2 separate regions of the Homo sapiens genome follow, and region 1 is linked to region 2. Evidence: fine-mapped expression QTL. A gene starts in region 2. The other region holds a variant in brackets. All regions are shown on one strand. Distances are from middle to middle.

Region 1 (5,368 bases), 80 kb before region 2:
TCACACTCCTGGGCGTCTCCCATTGCTCATCCAGTGGGAGGTGACGGTTCCCAGTCTCAGTCTGGGGCACTTCCTTTCACTTCCCCTGGGTGTTCACCATTGTGAGGAACAGGTTAGATGGGGAAGAGCTGCACAAGAATTTCACACAGTGTCTTTTCTGTGGCAGATACTATTGCAGAATTGGTCATGCAGGTCTGAGAACACCACATGTAAGTTAAAGTACAAGAGGCCTGTGTGTCCTTGGGCCCAGTGCACCTGCAAACACTTCCTCGATTAGTCAGCGCTTAGCTGACTTAGTGTCTTGGCCTAGAGCAATACTATCCCCAATTAACAATGGAAGTGAAATATGCCCATTGCTGTCTTCACCCAGAGAAAATAGATTGCTCATATATTACTTCTTCCATACACTCACATGGAAATCAGCTGAAGTTTCTATGACACCAGGACAGTCAGCAGCTCTGCCATAAAACATTTTAGTCATAAACATCTATTTATAACACAGACCTCAATGTATTTATTTAAAAGGCACCAGATTATCTAGTCGTGGGATTTATTTATTATCAACTGACAGTTTCTGAACACGAAGGATGTACAAAACACTCCTCTACATATTGGGGGTGGCCACAAGGATGACTTAAACCCCCCAACCTCAAGGAGTTCCCAGTCTAGAGAGGGCAATACACATAAAAACAAATGATGACTGTGTCCAGTCAAGATGCATAGGAGCATAGAGGCTGGACCTGTAATTCCAGTGAGTAGGTGCAACTGCACTTCGAGCTGCTCTGGAGGTGTGTGCACTCACTCTTCCAGAAGAGAAGCTGGAAGGGCTGAGGTCTGGGACAGAAAGCACGGAAAGGGCAGATCCCTCTCAGAGGCTGATCTGGGTGGGGAAGAGTCAGAAAATGTGGGTTCAGTTCAGATTGCCAAGGACCTTCTATTCCATGTGAGGTGACCACAGATCCCAGTTTCCCAAGGTTTATGTCTGTTGCTCCAACATAATCATCAATAGAGCTGCGTCCTTTAACTCTCAAGAGTGTCCCAGATAGATGATAAGTCCCACAAACACCTGACTTATACAGCTGTGCAAAGGGGGTTGATAGGTTATATAAAGCAAATGAATGAATCAGATATGTGTCCTGGAAAGATAACTCCAGCAGCCATGAGAAAAACAGTTTGCAAAGGGATGAGACTAGAGACGGAATCTCTCCATACAGACAGAAGTAGAATGAAACATACTTGCCTTGAAAACTAACCATATTCTAAACATGGACTTGCCTAAATGTTGGTTATAAGATTGTCTCTGTTTCCAATGACAATTTTTTGAACTGTGTCAAGTTGCATAGATGTTCTGAATGTCTTTTAAGTTCTCAGTAATTTTCAGAAATAATGCTAGCTGCCTGACACCAGCCTTTTTTTTTTTTTTTTGTAATAACGCAGAAAGATAAAGAGGATTCTGATAAATACCTGGGGGAAAAAATCTCAAGACTCTTTTGGGAAAAAGGACTTAATGTTGCAGAGGAGCTCTGATCACCCAGGTTTGGTGCAGAAGTTTGCGTGACCTTTTTCTAGGAAGCTGCCGCTCACCATTATTGCAGCATACCTTTTGCATTGTTTTGCTAGTCTTGCAAATAGGTTTCACCAAGCCACCCACACTTCCCAGCCATCTTTCCTGAAACTACTGAATGCACCTCTGAGATGGATTGGGGTGTAGTCTCCAAGGCACAAAGCTGAGTTAATTGGACGTGGAGACTGAACCTGTAGCAGTGGCCTCGTTAGCACCACTGAACTACCCGGACACAGCCTCAATGATGCAAGGCACTTTTGGTAAGATGCTTCCTGTAGGTGTCCTTCTGTGCACATATGCTCCCTTCTTCCAGGGCTACTTGGACTTGATGACTAAGAATGATGAAAGAATGAGACCCTACAGTGGCCAAGTCATCCTGAAGGGACTGGCCATGACTGAAGCCCAAGTTCTTAGCATGTTCATGCTTGAGAAGCAACACAGCACAGGGCAGAGAAAGAGTACAAGGTTTGGAGTGAGATTGGTCTGTGTTTAAGTCCATCCCTGCTACTTACTAGACAAGAGACATCAGACGTTACTTAACCTTTGTGTACCTTATTTCCTTCCCAGGATTGTGACGACAACACCTGCTGTACCTGGTGGTTGGGTTTGTGTTAACCTAGCCAAACCCCCAGCACAGGTGTGGCACATGTAGGTGCTTAGTTGACGGTGGCTGATTTTATTAACTGTTGTCAT[A/C]GTGATTATTACAGAATAGGTTCTGTTTAAATACATTCATTCGCTGAGTCAGCATCTATTTCTTGAGCACATGTCACTTGCTGAGTCGTGTTCTCTGCCCTAGGGATATAGCCATGAACAGGATAAACAAGGTTCCTGTCCTCAGGATGCTTAGACAAATGCTCTAATTCAGCTCTTCTTTTTTCATTTCCTGCTCAATTTATTGACTTCTGCCACCCCTTCATTTGTTGCCCTTTCCCAGCATCCTCTACCTTCAGCCAGAAACCCCTGTTTTCTCAGTAGCTTTGTCCTGTTAATATCCCAGAAGCCTGCAGCCGCATCATCTGCTCCTTTTTGATTTCCTCCATTCTGTGAACATGGATGGAGCACGGGCTTTGGAATCAACCGTTCTGCCCTCAGTCCCAGCTCTGCCGCTCCCCACCTTGGATGCAGAGGCTCCCATTCCTCTGTTGGAAAGATCACACAGATGTGTCTCAGAGGCTTGGTACACAGTGCCTGCCTGATTTGGTTAAAAAGAAGCTTAAAAGAGAAAGACCAAAGAGGGAAGCTTTTACAAGTTGCTTTTTAAAGCTTTGGAAGTTTGTGTTTGAGGCTTCAAACAGATAACTAATTAAGTTCTAGCACTCCCTGTGATTCGGACAACAACCGTAACTACTGTCATGTTACTACTATTAATTGATTCTATTTGGTTCCAATGACACGAGTCAAAAAATGTTTTCCCAACTGTGGTTGGACTCAGTTGACTTTCCAATCATATCACTCCCCTCCTTCAGTGGCTACTCAAGATCAGGTCTGAGGTCACTCCCACAGCCTACACGATGTGGCCCCACCTCCTCACTCTGCATTTTCCTGCACTTACCTGCAGGCTCACCTGCAGGCCACAGCAGCTTTCCTTGGCTTCCTCAAGGAAAGCCCCTCACTGCCTACCTCAGAGACAGCTCCGGTGCCGTGCCCTGTGCCAGGAATGCTGTTCCTAACCTCTTCCCCAAGCCCCCGTGCATCTTCCAGGTTTCAGCTTAAATGCTACTTTCCCAAGGAAGCCTTTTCCTGACCCTCTCCTCAAACAAGTCTAAGTCCTCATGTTAGTGTCGTCTTCTAGCACTCTGGTTTTCTCCTTCATAACACCACAGTTGTACTTCCTTTTCGTATACTTTTTTTTTATTTAACATCTGTCACTTTCAGGGGGTTATAAGGAGCACATGAGGGGAGGACTGTGTCTACCTCCCCGTCTAGAAGCACAGGAACTATGTGTTGAATGAATATATAGGAAGCTGTAGATGGATTTCTTATCACTGCATATATTCAATCTTAGCTAGAAACACACTCTGAAGGCCGGGTGCGGTGGCTCACATCTGTAATCCCAGCACTTTGGGAGGCTGAGGTGGGTGGATCGCCTGAGGTCAGGAGTTCAAGACCAGCCTGGCCAACATGGCGAAACCCTGTTTCTATGAAAAATACAAAAAAAAATTAGCCACACCTGGTGGCACGCACCTGTAGTCCCAGCTACTTGGGAGGCTGAGGCAGGAGAATCACTTGAACCTGGGAGGGGTTGCAGTGAGGCAAGATCTCGCCACTGCACTCCAGCCTGAGCCACAGATGGAGACTCTGTCTCAAAAAAAAAACACACACACTCTGAAACAGGTGTGTGGAATTGACCTTCAGATCTGGACTTCCTGTTCAGATGCCAGTGGTAACAAAGTCATTACTTGATAATGTTTACTGATGGCCATGACCTAGCTCAGTTCAGTCCTGAGTAGATGGGCATTCACAGCAGCCTACTTAGCAATTATGTCACCGGCCATATGAAGACTGGCCACTCCTGAGAGCAGAGGTGACAAAGCAGATGATCGAGGGCTAAGGGCTGAATAGATTCCAGAATCTGAGCAGCCACTTTCACCAGGTCATATCTCCAGGGTCCAGAGGTGAGGTTTTAGGGGGATGGAGGTGGGAGCTGCATCATAAAAGTGAGCAGTGCCAGGGTGCCTTTCGTTGCTACAAGGAAGAACCCTATCTTAAAGGAGCAGTTTTTGCACATGAAGGTATTTTCTTCAGGCTGGGTGTGGTGGCTCACGCCTATAATCCCAGCACTTTGGGAGGCCGAGGCAGGAGGATCACCTGAGGTCAGAAGTTGGAGGCCAGTCTGGCCAACATGGTGAAACCCTGTCTGTACTAAAAATACAAAAATTAGCTGGATGTGGTGGTGAACACCTGTAGTCCCAGCTACTCCAGAAGCTGAGGCAAGAGAATCGCTTGAACCTGGGAGGCAGAGGTTGCAGTGAGCTGAGATTGCGCCACTACACTCCAGCCTGGGTGACAGAGCAAGAAGCCATCTCCAAAAAGAAAAAAAGTATTTTCTTTTTCTTTATAATGAAATGATGTCTAGTTATATGCATTATGAAGCAGGAAGAGTTATCATCAAGGGTGATGGACTGTTTAACGTAATTGTGAGATGGGGGGTATGCTGTTTCTAGAATTAACACAGATTGACCTTTGTAACAGTGACCACAAAATGCAGACAGGCCTGATGGGGATTTGTTCCTATACTCTTCCCTGTAAACACCACATGGCTTGGAGCCTCAGTTGATGCCTTAGAGTCAGGGTTAAAGGTGCAGCTATGTGGAAGGGCTTCCAGCTCTTTGTTATGTCTTGTGCTCACTGCTGCTTTGCCACTTACTTTGTAGTCGTCTGTCTACTTAGTCCATCTCCCCCATTAAACCACAAGTTCATTGAGAACAGGGACCATGTCATAAATATATTTGACTCATCCCTAGCACCTAGCACAGGAAACACTAAATAAATACCGAAAGAGGGAAGGAAGGAAAGCAGGTAGGTCAGTAGGCTCTGGTTAAGGGAAGGGATGGTGTAGGGTTCACCCTGGGCTGTACACTATGCTCCAGCACTGACTGTAAAGCCACTTCATAATTGCTAAGTAGAGGGTGTCGGCTTAGAAAGGAAAGGGACCACATGCTGACCAAGATTTTCCCAGGTGACACTGTGAAGGAAGCTGATGTCAGCTTCACATCCAGACTTGTGTGAGTAATTAGAAACTTCAGAGGGAGGGTAAAGAAAATCTGCCTACTAGTTGACAGCCCCCTTCTCAGCCCATATGGA
Region 2 (5,368 bases):
CTCAACTGTTTAGAAACAGCTTTAAATTAACGGGTGGGGGTGGGGTCACCACATCGCCTTCCCCCCAGCTCTGCAGGACAAATGTCATGTGCACCAGCAAGAGGCCTTAGCCCTTAGGTGGGCACCGGCTTGGTCTCAAGGTATGGCATCCCTCACCTTGCCCAGAAGGCAGGCGTTGCTAATGGGCACCTGCAGCTGTCCTGGCATTTGCCACAGGGTGACTGCACTACATTATTCAAAAGAAAAACTCACCCAGGAAAGCTGTCCCCAGCTTCACCCCACCTCTTTAGCTGGGACCCAAATTGAGAGAAATTAATGAGTCAAACCAGCTCATCGGCCAATACCACCAACGTGGCTGGGAGCAGCAGACAAGGGGGTAGGGGGGCGAGTTCCATTTCTCCACTAAAGAAAAGCCCTTCTCCCTAAAAAAAGAAAACAGCAAATCAGGGCGGTGTGTGGTCAAACGACCAGACACAATCTTTCCACTAGACCCGCTCAGCTTCGCCTCGCCTAGATTGAAGATGTCCCCGGGTGGCGGGGATCTTGCCTCACGACCCCACTGGCAGCTCAGTTAGGGTGGCTGGCTCCAGGAGCCTCTGGGAGAGTGAATAACTCCACACAGGAGCCAGAAAAGGGCCTCCAACCAGAAACCCCAATTCCTCCCTGGGCCAGGCAGCCAGAGGCCCCTCTCTAGCTCCATACAGGGTGCAGCCGGCAGCCTTGCCTACCCTGGACCCAGCAAGGGCACAGGCGGCAGGGGCAGGTCAGTCCTTTGAGTTCCCCAAAGTGGGAGGTCAGTGGCCTGGGTGGCTCTGAATACATCTTCTGGGTTTTGCGCAAGGCTCGTGAGTTCAAAAGTGCCCAGAGTTCTTGGCAGGGATGAAAAAAACCCCAGGGAGAGACTGTGGGAAAGGTGAGGCCCTTGGTGGCTTTGCTAGACACATACTGTACACAAAACTGATTTAATAATAAATTCTTAAAAATGCATTGAATCCTTGAGCCATGACGCAGGCTACAGTGCTCACCGATCCAGGCCTAGGAGGAGCCGCTTCTTGTCCTCCTGGCCGCTCTCGTTCTTCAGGTCGGAGAAGACCTGTGTGAAGTAGTGTGGGTCGGCATTTATCTGCAGCATCTTTGAGCTCATGAGGTTGATGACAGAGAGGCAACGGTCCCAAAAGGCCTCCTTGCAGCTCTCCACCAGGAAGGGCTTGAGCGGGTAGGAGATCTCGTTGCCCATGTAGGAGTAGGAGAGGTACAGGCATGTCAGCAGGACGGCCTGGAGCTCGTGATCCGAGCCCACCTCGGAGGAGATAACATCCCTGCAGAGCATGTAGAGGAAGACCACGTTGGCCGGCGTGATGAAGCCCTGGTCCTGCCAGCCCTGCAGAAGCAGCGAGCGGTCCACGCTGCGCAGCCAGAGCACGGGGTCCGTGGGGGACAGGTGCTTCAGGCGGTAGCACCGGCGGCAGAGAAACTCACCCAGGCAGCGAAGCAGCTCACTGGTGGACGCCTGGACGATGACCCGTTTGGGCGTCCCTGCGGAGGTGACGGCAGGGTGAGGGGCTTTCTTGACTGAGGAGGAGCCCCCGGTCTGGGAACCCGAGAGCTGGCTGGCCGGGGGTGCAGGCGGCTGGGCCGGTGGGGGCTGGGCGAATGTGGACAGGTTGGCGCACGACAGCGACTTCTTCAGGTTCTCATTGTTGAGGTGCGTGATGTTGTTCTGGTAGCTGCTGTTGGGCTGCACCTTCTTGGAGTTCTTCTTCTTGGCCGACACGGCCACGATTCTCTTCCAAGGCAGCACGGAGATGATGGAGTGGCGCTTCAGGTTCTTGTCCTTGGCGTTCTTGCTGTTCTGTACGGCCGTATAGTGGCCCACGGTGGCCGCGCCATCCTCAAACAGCGTGGCCTTCCGGTAGCTGGGAGACAGGGACAGCACCGTGCCCATGGTGCTGCTGCGCGCCGGGCGGGGGCTCGCGCCCCTGCGCGCCCAGCCTGCCGGCCGGAGGGATAAAACCGCTCACCGAGCCTGCGGCGGCCCCGGAGAGGAGGCGGGGGCGCTCCCGGGAAGCGTGCTGCCCCCTTGGATCTGCCTGGAAAACAAGATGGTTCTTAGCGCCAGGCTGGGCTCCGCGCCGCGCCCCTGCGCCCCTGCGCCCCTCCGCCCCGCGCCTCGGCGCACCCCGCCGCCCCAGTCCCGGGCCCTACCCGCGCCCCCGCGACGCAGCCTCGCCGCCTCCACTGCAGCACCCCCGCCCGCCGCCGCCGCTGCGGTCCCCAGGCGCAGCCGGGAGGGGCCCGGTCGCCGACGGAGGCGGCCGAGGACCCCCGCCTGGACACCCCGCACGGGCGCGACCCCGGTCTCCGCTCCCCAGGGCCAAGGACGGCCGCCCAGCGCAGGCTTACCCGGCAGGCGGCAGCTCCTGCGCTCCGCGCCCTCCGCAATGCGCGCCGCGGCCCCGCCGCCGCGGTCCCGGCGCTCGGCGGCGCTCGGGGGCGCTCGGCGGGGATCGGCTGGGCTCGCGCTCGGCGGCGGCGACGGCGGCGGCGGCGGCGGCGGCAGCTAGGGAGCTTCTGTCCAAGGTTCTGCAGGCACCGCAGCCCCGCCCCCCGCTCGGCCGCCCGCACCTTCGCCGCCGCCGCCGCGCTCCCGCTCCCGCTCCCGCTTCCGGCGCGCGCCTCAGCGCCCTCCCTCGCGGGGCGCGCGCGCCGTCCACGCTCCGGCCTGGTCTCGCCGGGGAGTCGCGGCCGTTGGTGTCCTCAGCTCGAGCCGCGCACGGTGCGGGTAGGACGCGGCAACGAGCGGGAGGCACCTCTACGCGCCGGGCCCCATCTAGGAGCCGGACTCCGCGGCTGCGGCGGGACACGCGGCGTCGGCCCGCCCCGCCCCTCGGGGCCGCCCCTCCCGCACAGCTCGCCGCCCGCTCCGCGCCGCCGCCCAACAGCAGCCCGGCCGCCGGAGAGTCCTCGGCGCCCGCGCAACCCAACTCTGCCGACGCGGGGCGGGCGCCGAGCAGGGCGGAGCCGAGGGCCGACCCCGCCCGCGTCCCGCCCAGACACGTGCTGCCTTTGTTCCCGCCGCGGCGCCCGCAGCTGCCGGCCGCGGGGGCACTCTCGGCCGAGTCCCTGCCCTGGCAGCGCGCGGCCCGCCCTCTCTGAGGCTGCCGCCCTGGCCTGGTGAGGAGCCCTCCGCCGAGGCCAGGGTCCGGAGCTCCCTCCTTCCACCTGACATCCCCGTCCCTGTGGAAAGCAGCCAGGGAGCGCGGGGAAGAAGGCCCTGGGCGGGGAGAGGCGACGCCTTTACTGAGGCCTCCCGAGTGCCACGCGCACCTCGAGTGGACAGTCCAATCGGTTCTGGCCACCCCTCCGGGGCCTCCGTTCCCTCATCATGGGTAGATGACCGCGGCCGAAGTGGGCCTCAGAGATCCAAGCCAGAGAAGCGTGGCCCGTAGCCAAGCCTGAGCCCGTCACAAATATGACCTCTAAGTTCCCACTCGCCCTCTTATTTGTCATATTAAAGCTGAAGCAACTGCCCCTCCGGCCAGCTTTCTGACCCTCTTAAACGTTTTCAATTCTAAGTATGTATAATTTGAGAACTTGATGCTAGCGAAATTGAGTAAAATTCTGTTTCTGAAAGCTGTTCCTGTCAGATGTGAATCCAGATCCTTCACAAAGGCTGTTGTTCATTTACTATTTTACCTTGTTTCTGGAGATCGAGTCAAAACTGACCACAAACCTGGGAAACAGGAAACTTAAGCCCTGTCTTAATCCAGATTATCTCTGGACCTAGAGATGAGGGAGTGGCTCTCCAGAGGAGAGGATGCCACCCAGTTACCTGACCACTCCAGCCGACTAGGCTTTCACCAGCCCTGTCAACTGTCCTAGGGGGAACAGAAAGGGAATCTGGCATCATTCAAAATGGTGCAATCAAGGCAGAAAGTGCTGGGTTTTGTTTATGTGCCACTCAGATTTCTGTCAATAGGAATTCCAGGCTTTAGGAACCTTGGGGGGCAAGGCATACAGTGGAAAATGCATTGCTCTGTACCCAGAGGGCTACTTTGTCCACAGCCTTTCAGAACATCCACAACAGCTGTTATGGGAACTCAGAAGAGGAAGGCAGGCCCCCAGCTCAGTGCGCCCCTCCCTGTGAATGTTCCTCAGTGTACAAGCCTACCTGCTCTTCAAATGGAGCTGTCCTCAACCCTCCTGCATGTAACAGTAAGAAGCCAGAAGAGGCCGACGCAGTGGCTCATGCTTGTAATCCCAGTATTTTGGGAGGCCGAGGCGGGTGGATCACCTGAGGTCAGGAGTTCGAGACCAGCCTAGCCAACATGGTGAAACCCCGTCTCTACTAAAAATACAAAAAAAATTAGCCAGGCGTGGTGGCAGGCACCTGTAATCTCAGCTACTCAGGAGGCTGAGGCAGGAGAATCGCTTGAACCTGGGAGACAGAGGTTGCAGTGGGCCGAGATTGCACCATTGCACTCCAGCCTGGGCAACAAGAGCGAAACTCCATCTCAAAAAAAAAAAAAAAAAAAAAAAAAAAGCCAGAAGAAACGATTTGCTTCGAGACCCTGACCAAGTGTCCCTTTTCCTTCTCAAAGGAAAGCCGAACCCCAGCCTCTTTTCCTCAGCCCTTACTTGGAGCCTCTAGCTCCTGAGTTGGCTCTGTGCCCCCCTTCAGATTCTAGTGTTGAGCCAAGGTTAAATGTTTTCCACTTCCCAAAATATGTCCAAATTTTGAAGCCTATAATCCACCCCGGCCAGGCGTGATGGCCACACTGTGTCCAGCAGTTTCAGAGGCCAAGGCGGGCGGATCACCTGAGGTCAGGAGTTTGAGACCAGCCTGGCCAACATGGTGAAACCCGTCTCTACTAAAAAAATTAGCTGGGCGTGGTGGCGGGTGCCTATAATCCCAGCTACTCGGGAGGCTGAGGCAGGAGAATAGCTTGAACCCGGGAGGCAGAGGTTGCAGTGAGCTGAGATTGTGCCACTGCATTCCAGCCTGGGTGACAGAGTGACACTTCGGCTAAAAAAAGAAAAATCCACCCCCTAGAAAAACCTGGGCCCACTCTGTTACCTTTAACTCTCAATCTCAATTCTAGCTATTCCAATTCACGGGGAGGCGGACCAAGCTCACCCCACTACCCTGCTTCCCACTCTGCAGCAGCATGCCTCTGCATGGGCCTTTTCAAGCCAGGCCATACCCTGTGTCTTCTCACCTTTGTCCAGCCAGCCTTTCCCTAGCACCTTCAAACAGAGCTCTCGGCAGAACACCAGCCTCCTCACACTTGCCCAAGGCAAAGTCACAGTTGCAGCACAGCAGGAATGGGATGGCACTGGCAGCCCACTTGCTGCTGCGACTAAGGGA

What was found. PIP is the estimated chance that this variant, and not a neighbour inherited with it, causes the effect. A credible set is the group of variants that fine-mapping cannot tell apart.
Region 1: its variant is the best candidate, but not a certain one, in a credible set for the expression of CDK5R1 in unexposed skin (GTEx, PIP 0.59).

Annotation. Positions count from the first base shown.
Region 1 is chr17:32,564,244-32,569,611 of GRCh38, reverse strand. The region is part of intron 21 of MYO1D (myosin ID); the gene reads left to right. Among named protein-coding and RNA genes, the nearest start is that of CDK5R1, 80 kb to the right of the region's middle. RefSeq lists an enhancer at 1-57. The variant A/C (reference allele first, on the strand shown) is at 2,258.
Region 2 is chr17:32,484,198-32,489,565 of GRCh38, reverse strand. CDK5R1 (cyclin dependent kinase 5 regulatory subunit 1) reads right to left here and starts at 2,573. Exons shown (of 2, transcript NM_003885.3): 1 at 2,404-2,573; 2 at 1-2,090. The coding sequence starts at 1,945. The coding sequence ends at 1,022. RefSeq lists enhancers at 1,487-2,046, 3,286-3,787 and silencers at 1,934-2,223, 2,314-2,573, 2,684-3,213.